Regions from separate parts of the Homo sapiens genome. Here region 2 is linked to region 1. A link means that fine-mapping ties the variant in region 1 to the expression of a gene that starts in the linked region. Tissue or cell type: blood mononuclear cells. Region 1 holds a variant in brackets; the other region holds the start of a gene. All regions are shown on one strand. Distances are between the middles of the regions.

The links. PIP is the estimated chance that this variant, and not a neighbour inherited with it, causes the effect.
Region 2: it holds the start of NRN1, and the variant in region 1 is fine-mapped to the expression of NRN1 in blood mononuclear cells (TOPMed, PIP above 0.99).

The regions. Positions count from the first base shown.
Region 1 is chr6:5,980,653-5,986,025 of GRCh38, forward strand. No RefSeq gene overlaps it. Among named protein-coding and RNA genes, the nearest start is that of NRN1, 24 kb to the right of the region's middle. The variant C/T (reference allele first, on the strand shown) is at 2,478.
Region 2 is chr6:6,004,247-6,009,571 of GRCh38, forward strand. It overlaps NRN1 (neuritin 1), which reads right to left and starts at 2,679. Exons shown (of 3, transcript NM_016588.3): 1 at 2,449-2,679. The coding sequence starts at 2,503. RefSeq lists an enhancer at 1-143 and a silencer at 4,610-4,729.

The sequences.
Region 1 (5,373 bases):
TAAGGTGATGGTCTTAGGAGGTGGGTTCTTTGCAAGGTGATTAGGTCATGAGAGTGGAGCTCTCATGAAAATGATTAGTGCCCTTATAAAAGAGACCCCAAATATCTCTCTCACTTCTTCCCCTTCTGCCATGTGAGGACACAACAAGAACATTGTCTTAGAATTAGGAAAGTGAGCCTTCACCAGAACCTGACTATGCTGGCCACCCAGGCTGTGGCATGTTTGTCATAGCAGCCCGTACAGACTGAGACTGACACCTTTGTGAGCACATGCATCTCAATGCTGCCAGAACCTTCTTAGAAAATGTGTAGAATGTGTCTCAGAATTGTCCACCCAAGGAACAGAATAGGGGAATATTTACTCACCAGCTTTCCATCACTTTCAAATATAGGTAAGCATTTTAGATGTAACTCAGGGTGAAAAATCCATTTATGTGCTTTGCAAGTTGAAATTCCGTAGTCAGTTGATATATAAATATTTCTTATTATAAAATACTGTATGATTAATTATTCTTGTGGAAACTCTTAATTTTATGTACTAAAACAATTATTAAAGAGCTTTCCAATTAACCAAGCTGATGTATCTGGAGAGTGTAAGTATTTTTTAATGGATACTCGCTGCAAATATGCCCCCATCAGCTGTTCGAGATTAAAGGAGACTAAAGAGGCATGACAGCTACGTGCAATGCATGACACTATTTTGGATCCTGGCTCAGGGAGAAAAAGTTCTATGAGAGACATTATTGGGACACTTTGCAAAATTGGTTTCTCTCTTGTGTTGAGTCTCTTAACCTGAGATTGTTGGCTGTTTCTTTGCAGAGACCTGCAAGGAAACTATGATCCCTAATTAGAGACTCACGAATCATGCAAAGGTTTATCACAGAGAAAAAACTAGGGCTAAATTACTGCCCACAGGAGAGGAGTTTAGAACTACAGGATGATAGTAATGCTTGACACTAATAAATCACTCTGGAAAAGAAGTTTATAAAATCTGGCAGCTCTTAAAAATCAACATGCTATTTATAGAAAAGAATAGGAAAGAGAACTGTGCAACAAAGACTTTTTTTTGCCTCCTTTGAGCCATTTGAATCATCACACTCGCCATATTACTAACTTACACTACTTGTAGCATTCATCCTTTGATGGCAGAGGGCCAAAACATTCTTAGAAAATAGTTAGGAAGGGAGAGGAGTCATCACTTCCTTAGCTTAGGTTCAGAGTTCTGCTGAAAACCACTGTCTCTAGCACTCAATCTGTACTCTTCACCTGACTCCCGGGGAGAAAGTTCTACAGAGAGGAAGCTGGAGCGTAGAACAAGGCCCTTAAACTCACCATGCATTCTGAAATATCCTCTGTAGTAGCATGCATGCTTACTAATTTTTTCACAGTGGACATAGGAATATTAGTACTGTTTGCCTGTTCATTTATATATTAATTAACTCATTTATTCATTCACACGCCTTGATTCATGGTTTCAGAGATCAGTTGTTGAGTTTTCTGTATATATAAAAATCTGCGCTAGCTGCTATAGATATAGACACATACACGAGAGATGGCTTCTGCCTATAAGAAGAAACAGGCAGTAGCTAACTGTCTGAATTCATTCATTCAGCAAATGTTTATTGAGTGTCTACTCTAGATCAGGCAATATTCTAGGAGGTTGTATCCTAGTTGGAGCAGAAAGCTATTAATTAAGCAAATTTAAAAGGTTGTTCCCCTTTATGATTAGTGCTGTGAAGGAAATGAACAAAGTGATGTATGTACCTGCTATGTGTGAGCCATGTAATTACTGTTATTTGACCAAGTGAAGCTTAAAAGATACTCTCTAGTAGAGACATGTAGCGAGATATTAAAGTCAAGCTTGGCCGGGCTTAGTGGCTCATGCCTGTAATCCTAGCACTTTGGGAGGCCCAGGCGGGAGGATTGCTTGAGCACAAGAGTTTGAGACCAGCCTGGGCAACATAGCGAGAACTCATCTCTATAAAAATTTTAAAAATCAGTCAGGTGTGGTGGTGCATACCTGTAGTCCCAGCTACTCAGGAGGCTGAGGTGGGAGGATCACTTGAGCCTGGAAGTTCAAGGCTGCAATGAGCTGTGTTGTGCCACTGCATCCTAGCCTGGGTGACAGAGGGGAACCCTGTCAAAATAAATAAATGAATAAATACAGGAAATCTTCAAAACCTATTTAAGCCACTATGGTTGAGTTATTAAGCAAAATTACCAAATACATCATTGTTCTATGATATAGTTTCTCAACCTTGGCACTACTGACATTTTGGGACAGACAATTATTTGTGGCAAGGGCTGTCCTGTGCATTGTAGGATGCGCGGCAACATGCCTGGCCTCTACTCAGGGATGCCAGTGGCACCCCCTTCTCAGATGTAACAAGCAAAACTGTCTCCAGGCATTACGAAATGTCTCCTGTGGAACACAATTACCTCTGGTTAAGAAACACTGGTGTATGGGGAAAAATGTTC[C/T]GAATGCCAACTAGGGACCCTAGAAATATATATTCTGTCCCTCAATGTCCTCACCCAAGAGTCTCAGAGGGCTTCTTTTCCTCCTTGTTCTTATGTTTTCTGTCTAACCTTAGCCCTGCATCAGATACTTCATTTTCCTCCTCCCGTCAGCTTCCTGGGGGAGAAAGGGCAGGAAAAGCAGCTTCAGGGAAGCTGCTTTCCAACTGGAGCAAGTCAACCCCAAAGACAGGAGAAGTGGGGGACCTGAGTGGTGTTGCCATCACAGGCAAAGTTTGCCTCTTGATTCATTTTGCTAAGGATCCACACCCCCCCAGTCACACTCCACACAGAGCCCTGCGGCGACATTTACTCATGCAGTCATGGGTTCATGTGCCCCATCGCAGGCCATGAAGAACGTGGTTTGTATCAGCTTACTTTCTGCTCTTCTGGATGATTGAGGGCAGCCACATGGGATCCTCTGGAGGTGCCCAGCACTTGCTTCTTGGTCCTATATCGAGGCCTGCTTACTGTTAAGAGCAAAAGAGACCAAGATGTTGGCTGAGCACGGTGGCTCACACCAGCAATTCCAGCATTTTGGAAAGTTGAGGGGGGTGGATCACCTGAAGCTGGGAGTTTGAGACCAGCCTGATCAACATGGAGAAACCCCCTCTCTACTAAAAATACAAAATTAGCTGGGCATAGTGGCACATGCCTGTAATCCCAGCTGCTTGGGAGGCTGAGGCAGGAGAATCGCTTGAACCCAGGAGGCGGAGGTTGTGGTGAGCTGAGATCGAGCCACTGCACTCCAGCCTGGGCCACAGAGCAAGACTCCACCTTCAAAAGAAAGAGACCAAGATGTGAGCTGAGTGGTGAAGATAAAATCTGGATGTGGAACTGTAGTGATGCAAAGGCAGAGGGGAGCAGGGGAGAGGCTGGAGGTGACCACTCAAGACCTTTAGGAGACAGAAAACTGCACAGAAGACTGTCTGCCCAAGGCCTAGGGCCCAGCTTTGCCCAGGGAATCGAAACTTAGAGTATGAAGCAATGTTATAAAGCAATTTTTTTTTAGTTGTGCAAGTGTCAAATGCTGTAAATGAAACAAAATCAGGCAATGTGATAGTGCCTGTTTGCTGGGAGGATTTCCGGGAGAAGGTGGCTATCACTTTACAATGAAAGGTCAGAGAAGGTATCTCCGAAGAGGTGGCATTGAGGTTGAAACAAAATGACAGGAAGGAGCCTTCCACACAAAGACTCTGGGGAGAGGCAGAGGAAATAATGAGTTCAAAGGCATGAAGGCTAAATGAGCGTGGGGCATGCAAGGCAGAGAAACAGCAGGTAAACAGTGGGGTAAGAGAAAAAGGCAGGCCTTGGATCAAGTAGGGAGAGACACATTATAGAAAGAGCAAATGATCCTTACCCTGATGGGCTGTCTCGGCTCTTTGCAGTCCCTCTCAGTAGCAGACACCCACCTGTGCTTGATAGTTTTCACCCTGTTTCATAACATTGCACCTACTCAGAAACCACTGTCTCTTTGTATCTGTGATCACTTAGAGTCCATCAGCTTGGTGCTGACTTTCTTCTCTTCATGTAGACAGCTGTGTTATAAAAGACCCAAAGGGAGAGGGACAAAACCTAAAAAGGCTACTTTGGGGTATATATGAGCTTTGGAATTACCCATCTCCCTGCCAGGAGGTGAGGAGGGAAGAGTTCACAGTTGGCGTGTCCCTTGAGCAAGAGAAGATAACTCGCTCCTGCTGGTTCTGCAAGGTTTCAGCAGTGATGGTTGTTTTGTAGTAGCTCTGAACTTGCCAAGAAAAACACATTGTTTAAAACAAGCCATTCATTTTGAGAAAGGCTATTGTGTAATAATTTCTTTTTCTTCACCCCTTCATCCACAACCACGCAGAGACCATGGTCATCAAAATAATAGGTCTTTTTTATTTTTACTTAGGGGATCCCAATTTTTCTCCTGTGGCTATGAACAAGGGAAAATATAGCAAAGGGAATGCTGATTGGTTTATTATGCAAGTCTGTAGTTGGGATGACTATAAAACAATGAACATTATTTTCATAAACTACATGAAAACCAGTGTCTTATATTAAGCTTACATAATTACAGCTATGTCATTCTTTATGTTCCCATGTCAATGTTCTCTGCTTCAGATGCCCCTCCAAGAGGACAGGAATTGGACCCACTTTGGGTAGCCTTGTACAATGCAACCCAGCACCCAGCAACGTCCTGAAGAGGCTGCTGACTGCTCTGGTCGAAGTGGAGCAGGGCCCTTCCTCCCTCCACTGGAAAGGGTGGGCAAGAAGCATCAGTGCTTCTGGTATTTGACTCAGTGAGACCTAGATATTGCAGATCTGCCATCAAAAATATTTGTAAAGCCGTTTGCACCACTATTATCCTTCTGCTCCTTTTAAAACCTAACAGGCAGGCCCAACTTGGAAACTTCCAAGAATGAAACACCACCTTCAGAAAACGTGGTAATTGATAGAAGAGTCTGGTGCTACTGCATGATGCATTCCATACCCTCTGGGCTCCTCTCTCTAGTTCTTTAACCTAGTCTCTCTCAAGCTATGATGAGAAAGGCACTGATTATTTCAAAATGGTGCAAATCACCTGCTGTTTAAAAAACAAGATAAATCCCCCAAAAACGAAAAAAATGAAGTTGTCAAAGACACTGGAATGAAATTTCTGAAGAACCAATCTTTTCCCACTGTGTTTCTCCATCAAAAGGAAAAGCTAGGCAAGCTTGTTGAAATGATCAGCTCCATGTGTTCAGCCTGAGTATAGGGTAGCAGGAAACTGCACCCTAATTTTAGTGTTCTGCATGGACTCTCATTACTGCCCAAGCACATGGCTCTCACATGCATAAGTCCTTCTTGAGTACTGGTTGCTAACCCTCCTCCACAC
Region 2 (5,325 bases), 24 kb after region 1:
AAATCGAACACTGACGTAAAATCTTAAGAATAAACGAATCTTTGTTCTGATAGAGCTCGTTCAAAATGGAAATACACTCCACACATCTTCCTCTATAACGCATGTCACAAATACAGCTTTGCAGAGAAGAAACGAAATAAAATAAAGTCCAATCTCCCCGTCCACGTCTCTCCCCACCCCTTGCCTACACCCCCAAAACTCAGTGGCGAAAGAAGCCCCTAAAATGCATTGACATTTTTTAAGGGGAATTGGGGCTCGCCGGGGGCGGGAGCGCTCTTGTCACGTTATCTTCCCAGGCGCTGCTGGAGAAGACCCTGCACACCGCGCATGTGTGAGTGTGTGCTGTGTAAAATAAGTCGTGAACATTTCTGTCTTTTAAAACTGTGACTCCTTGGACTCTAGCCTTCTCTGGGAGGCCGGGAGGCTGCGCGCGGGACGGATTTTGCAGGCGCACGCGTCCCAGCAGGTCGCAGCCCGTGGGTCCCTCGCTGTCCTTCCTGAACCCCGCTTAGGCGAGACTCTAGCGGGTGACCCTGGCTCCTTCCCTGTCCTCTCTGCCGTCCCCTTCTTGTGCGGTTTCCATCCGTTCATTCATTCGTTCGACCTCTCATTCATTCCGAACTTCCTCCTGCTGCGTCTTCTTTCGTGTTCACCACACTCTTCTACCTCCCCGCCCCTCCCAACCCCCACTTTTCTTGCCAAATGTCAATGATTTGGGACAGCTCCCAGCCGTGAATTAATAAAGACCGAGGTTCTGTTGCAGGAAAGGGCAGACATTAGGGAACAAATACGTTCAATTTCAATTCCACAGTCAACAAATAGTCATTTTTGGACCGAGGTTAATGTGTTCAAAACGCGTCCCTCAGGCACGACCACCGTCTTTTTTTTCCCTCCAAACCTCTCAAAGTAAGGTTATTTCCTACCGGGAAAACAGAGTCCCAAATCTTGTCCGATTAAAATTTCTATCTCAAAAACAACTCTCTCTCCTGCTCTCTAAAAATTCAAAGGTTTATTGCAAAATGCCACATTCACTTATTTCCAACATTTAAGGAATTTGCTGCCATTAGAAATATTATTTACAGCAGCTCTTTTCACTAATGTCAAAGATTCAAAACAACCAGATTTAAAGCATTGTCATTTTTTGGAACTAAAGGAAAACACCAATATCCTGCACTCACACACTCTAAAATCTTTATAATGTTTCTGCATTATAAAATCTCAAAATCATGTCAGTTGCATAAAACCCCACTGCAAAGAATCCATTTTAAGGTCTAGAGAACTCCAAACCTTGTTTCCTTCACATTTCTTATGGAAAAAACATATTATGCATTCTCCTTTCTTGCCCCAAACCAATTACCTAAAGCACCCCCTCCCCCAATACTGCAAGGATTTGTCTGCAAAGAATGCCACAGCCTGAACTGATAGGAGGTAACAATTCCGTTTCAGGAGTTTCTTTTTTCCCCCGTGTTGTCCATTCTATTAATAACCTGCTTCACTTTCACTTTTAGGCCACGTTAATTAATGTTCTGACCCAGTGTCGGAGAAGGGGGTTTTCTAGTGCCCTCTTCTATATCTTTTCTTCATTCTGGATGGTAAAAATGTGAACTTTAAAAAGACCCCTGACAGCGTAACTACAACTCAACATTCCTTAACATAAAATGGGGACTAAATAATTCCTTCCATAACCAATCCCAAACAAACAAAAATAACAAACACCCGACATGACATATTCCAAACACTTCTTAACCCTTTCCTATATATAAAATGCAGACACCAATGTGTAAAGTAGCAGGCAAATGCATCTAGAAAAGTATATCTACGTAAATTTGGCTGAATTCATCCTCTTCAATGGTAAGCATGTTAAAATATGTGGTCTGAAGTTCCCTATCACTCTCGATTTGCCCACCAGCCGGGTCTGCGGTGCCCGTGCAAACGCTGCAGCTAGGATATAGGGGGGAGGAGGGGCGGGAGAATGACAAAGTTCTAAATGCAGCAGTCTGAGCCCTGGAATATCTTTGCTTTCAGCACATAAACTTTCCAGTCCTGGCTGCCTAGCCATTTTATTCCTGCATTCACATTTCGACTCTTCAAAATCATATCTTGCAGTATCGCAGGGGCCAGTACATTGCCCCAGAGCGCACCAAACCTGGTATAAACCCAGAAAGGGAAACAAAAATGGATGTGTGCTCAGGAAAAAGGGGGAAAAAAACCGTGTCCAGAAAATGTCCGGCCGCACACATTTCCTGGCGAACATTTGGAATCTATAGCTTTAGGAAAAACCGATCTGGGACGCGCTAGTCCCCAGGAACTGATGCCCCCACCCTCGGGGGATTGCCGGCTTCTCCGCACCCTGGGGCGGCCGCGGACCCGCTAGTCCCCCTCCGCGCCTCGGGCCGGGGCAGGCTGCCTCCCGCCTCCAGCCTCCAGCCGGGCTGAGCGGCCACTTACCTATTTGCACCGCGAGGATCAGTGAAATATATCTGCCGTTCAACTTAAGTCCCATCCTACGTTTAGTCAAACCATTTGCGACCGCAGACCTTTAAATAGTTAGTTTAGAGAACGCGGGGGAAAGCCAAAAAATAGGCATTGCCAACAAGTTCCGGGAGCGACAGAGACTTTATGCACTGGGAAGGCAGAGGGAGGAGAGAAAGAGAGGGAGCGAGGAAGAGACAGAAAGAGAGAGAGAGAGAGAAAGAGAGAGAGAGAGAGAGGCTGAGGGGGGGGGGAGAGCTGGGAATGGTTCACTCCATTAGAAGGGGGCGGAGGAAGTACAGCCTCACGCCCACGAGCAGGCCTGACGTGGGGGATGACACGGAATGATTTTTTTTTTAATATAGACACCTTGGTAGAGAATCGCCATTTATAGTCATCAGAAGCTGGAATTAATCAGATATCTCCAATTAATGTGCGATCTGAACGAAATTTTGCCTCCCGGGGGTGAGCACTTTCCTATTCTAGCGGTCACCCCTGCCTCTTCCTCGTTCCGGGGGCCCCCCAGCCCCGCCGCCTCCCTGCGCAGAACAGGGGCTCCCCCTCCCTTCCCCGCCAGGAGCTGGGGAGTCCTGGCGCGCCCACTCGATTGTTTCAACCTGCTCCCCCTCCTCCATCAGCACCACAGAGAATCCAGCCCGCTCTCTACGATGCAGGGGGGTTTAAAGGAGCGGGAGAGGGAAAAACAGCTAAGCTAGCTCGATTAATTCGAAAGCGCTCCTCGGCCGCCCGCCCCCTGCGCTTGCCTACCCTCTTTTTCTCCAACCCAGCAGCTGAGCTCTGGGCGCAGCCTGGAGCGCGTGAGCACGCAGCCCGGCCCCCCGCACGAGCACACACACACACACACACACACACACACACAAACGCGCGCGCGCACGCCCGCCAGCCGCGCCGAGCGCCCCCATGCCCGCCCGCACACAAGGCACGCGAGCGCGCGCACACGCCCAGGCCCCGGGGGTTTGGTTTGCACACGTGGGGCCCCAGAAATAAACACCGAATGTCCTCTGAATTTTACCCACCTGCGATGCCCCAGCGGGCCAAAGGCCGCTTCAAGGGACACAGCGACACCTGTTTTAGGGGGCGAGTAGGGCACCGGGGAAGGAGCCTCTGATAAGACAGTTTTCGGATACTAGTGATTTACCAACCAACTCTCAGCGCTTTAGGAAATTTCCAAGGCAAGCGCTGGTGTGCGGACTTCTTTCTAATCTTGATGCGCCTCTTGGGCTTATTTGTTGGGCTACACACACACGTACCCACACGCACACACGTACATCACGTACGCACACGCACACCCGGACCCACACACACCTGCACTGTCTTTTGATGCTCAGGCACAGACCCTGTGTAGGTGTAGCCTACCCTGCAACAAAATACTTCTGCAGCTGGCTTTGTGCTAGGTGCAAGCTGCTATCGACGACAGCTTGAGTCAAAACCGAAAAACTAACAGGGCTATTTCCTTTCTAAACGCCTTTAAGCTCTGGTTTTCTTCCTTTCTTCTGCACCAAACAGAAAAAAAAAAAGTCTAAATTGTAGCGTCTTTAATAAAATGCTAAAGAAGGCATTGGCCAGCTTTAATCCTTAAGCCTGTGGAGAGAAAAAAATGAAAACGACCCCCCAAATTTTGCCAAACTACACTAGAGGACGTCAAGCTGTCAAACTGTAGAAATGCACACGGATTAAGGAGAAGCGTTGAATTTGCTTCTACAGGCAGCTTGCCCTCTAGGGCCAATCTTGCCGTCCCCATACTCAGATATTTGGAGATGCATAGACAAAGGGGGAGAAAGGTGCAAAATAACGGGGGTAGGACAGGCTGTGGAGGGTAGGGGGCCGAGGGGAAGCTGCGGGGGTCCTACTGCAGCACTTGGTGACGTGAGGTGTCTGCAATGTGCGGCCCCTAACTCACGTCCCGCGGGAGCCTCAGACTCCCATGCAGCCTTCCTGGCCCTGGGGGCGGAGTCATGTCTCCCCGCCCCTGGTTATGTCACCGGCCTGCGGGCGGGGCGGTTGGGGGCTCGCCTTCCGGTGTCCAGGGGCACGGTGGCGGCCCCGGGTGTTTCCTTTCCCCGAGCTCGGAGGCTCCGGGAAGAACCGAAAACGTGGGCGGACAAGGGGTGGGGCGGGGGCTGGTGGCGAGAGGGGGGCGTTTCTCGGACCCTCCCCCGACGTCTTCCAATGGCAGGGCGGGAGGCTTTCCGAGGGGCGGGGCCTCAGGGGGGTTGCCACGCGGCCCGGCCCACGGCTCCGCCCCTCGCTCGGGGTTCCGCGTGGGGCCGGCCCAGCTTTCCCGGACCAGGCCACCAGCTGCGGGCCCCCAACCTCGCTCAGACTCGTGCAGAGCCCAGGCTTGGGAGTGGCTTAAGGTTTTTTGCCCTCAACGTCCTTGCCTTCCTCCTGCTTATCCACCTGGGATCTTCACAGCATCATTTTCTGGGATCCTCTCCAACCCCTCCCCTGTAACTCTGAGCGTGGGGCGCTGGGGATGTGGAGTAGGCAGGGCTGAGGGCCTCAATGAAGCGGGTGAACCCACGCGCGTGCGCACAGCCGCCCGCGCCGCGCCCCGGGCCGATCCGGTTCTTGCCCTTGGGACGTGGCTGCGCCTCACCGCCCTACCCCGGGAGGGAACCCCCGCTGACTTTTTCCTCTCTTCATTTTCCTCCCCAGGCGTCCCAACCTCCCTCATAGGCCTGAGTCTTTTTAAAAGTGAAGAAGAGAGAGGCAAACAGAGTTGGTACTCTACATAAATGATTTTCTGGGTAGATAGATGCACATGACATTTTATTTTTTGAAAAATTCTCATCTTTTAAATTACAGGTCGTTCTGCAGTCCAGGCTCCAT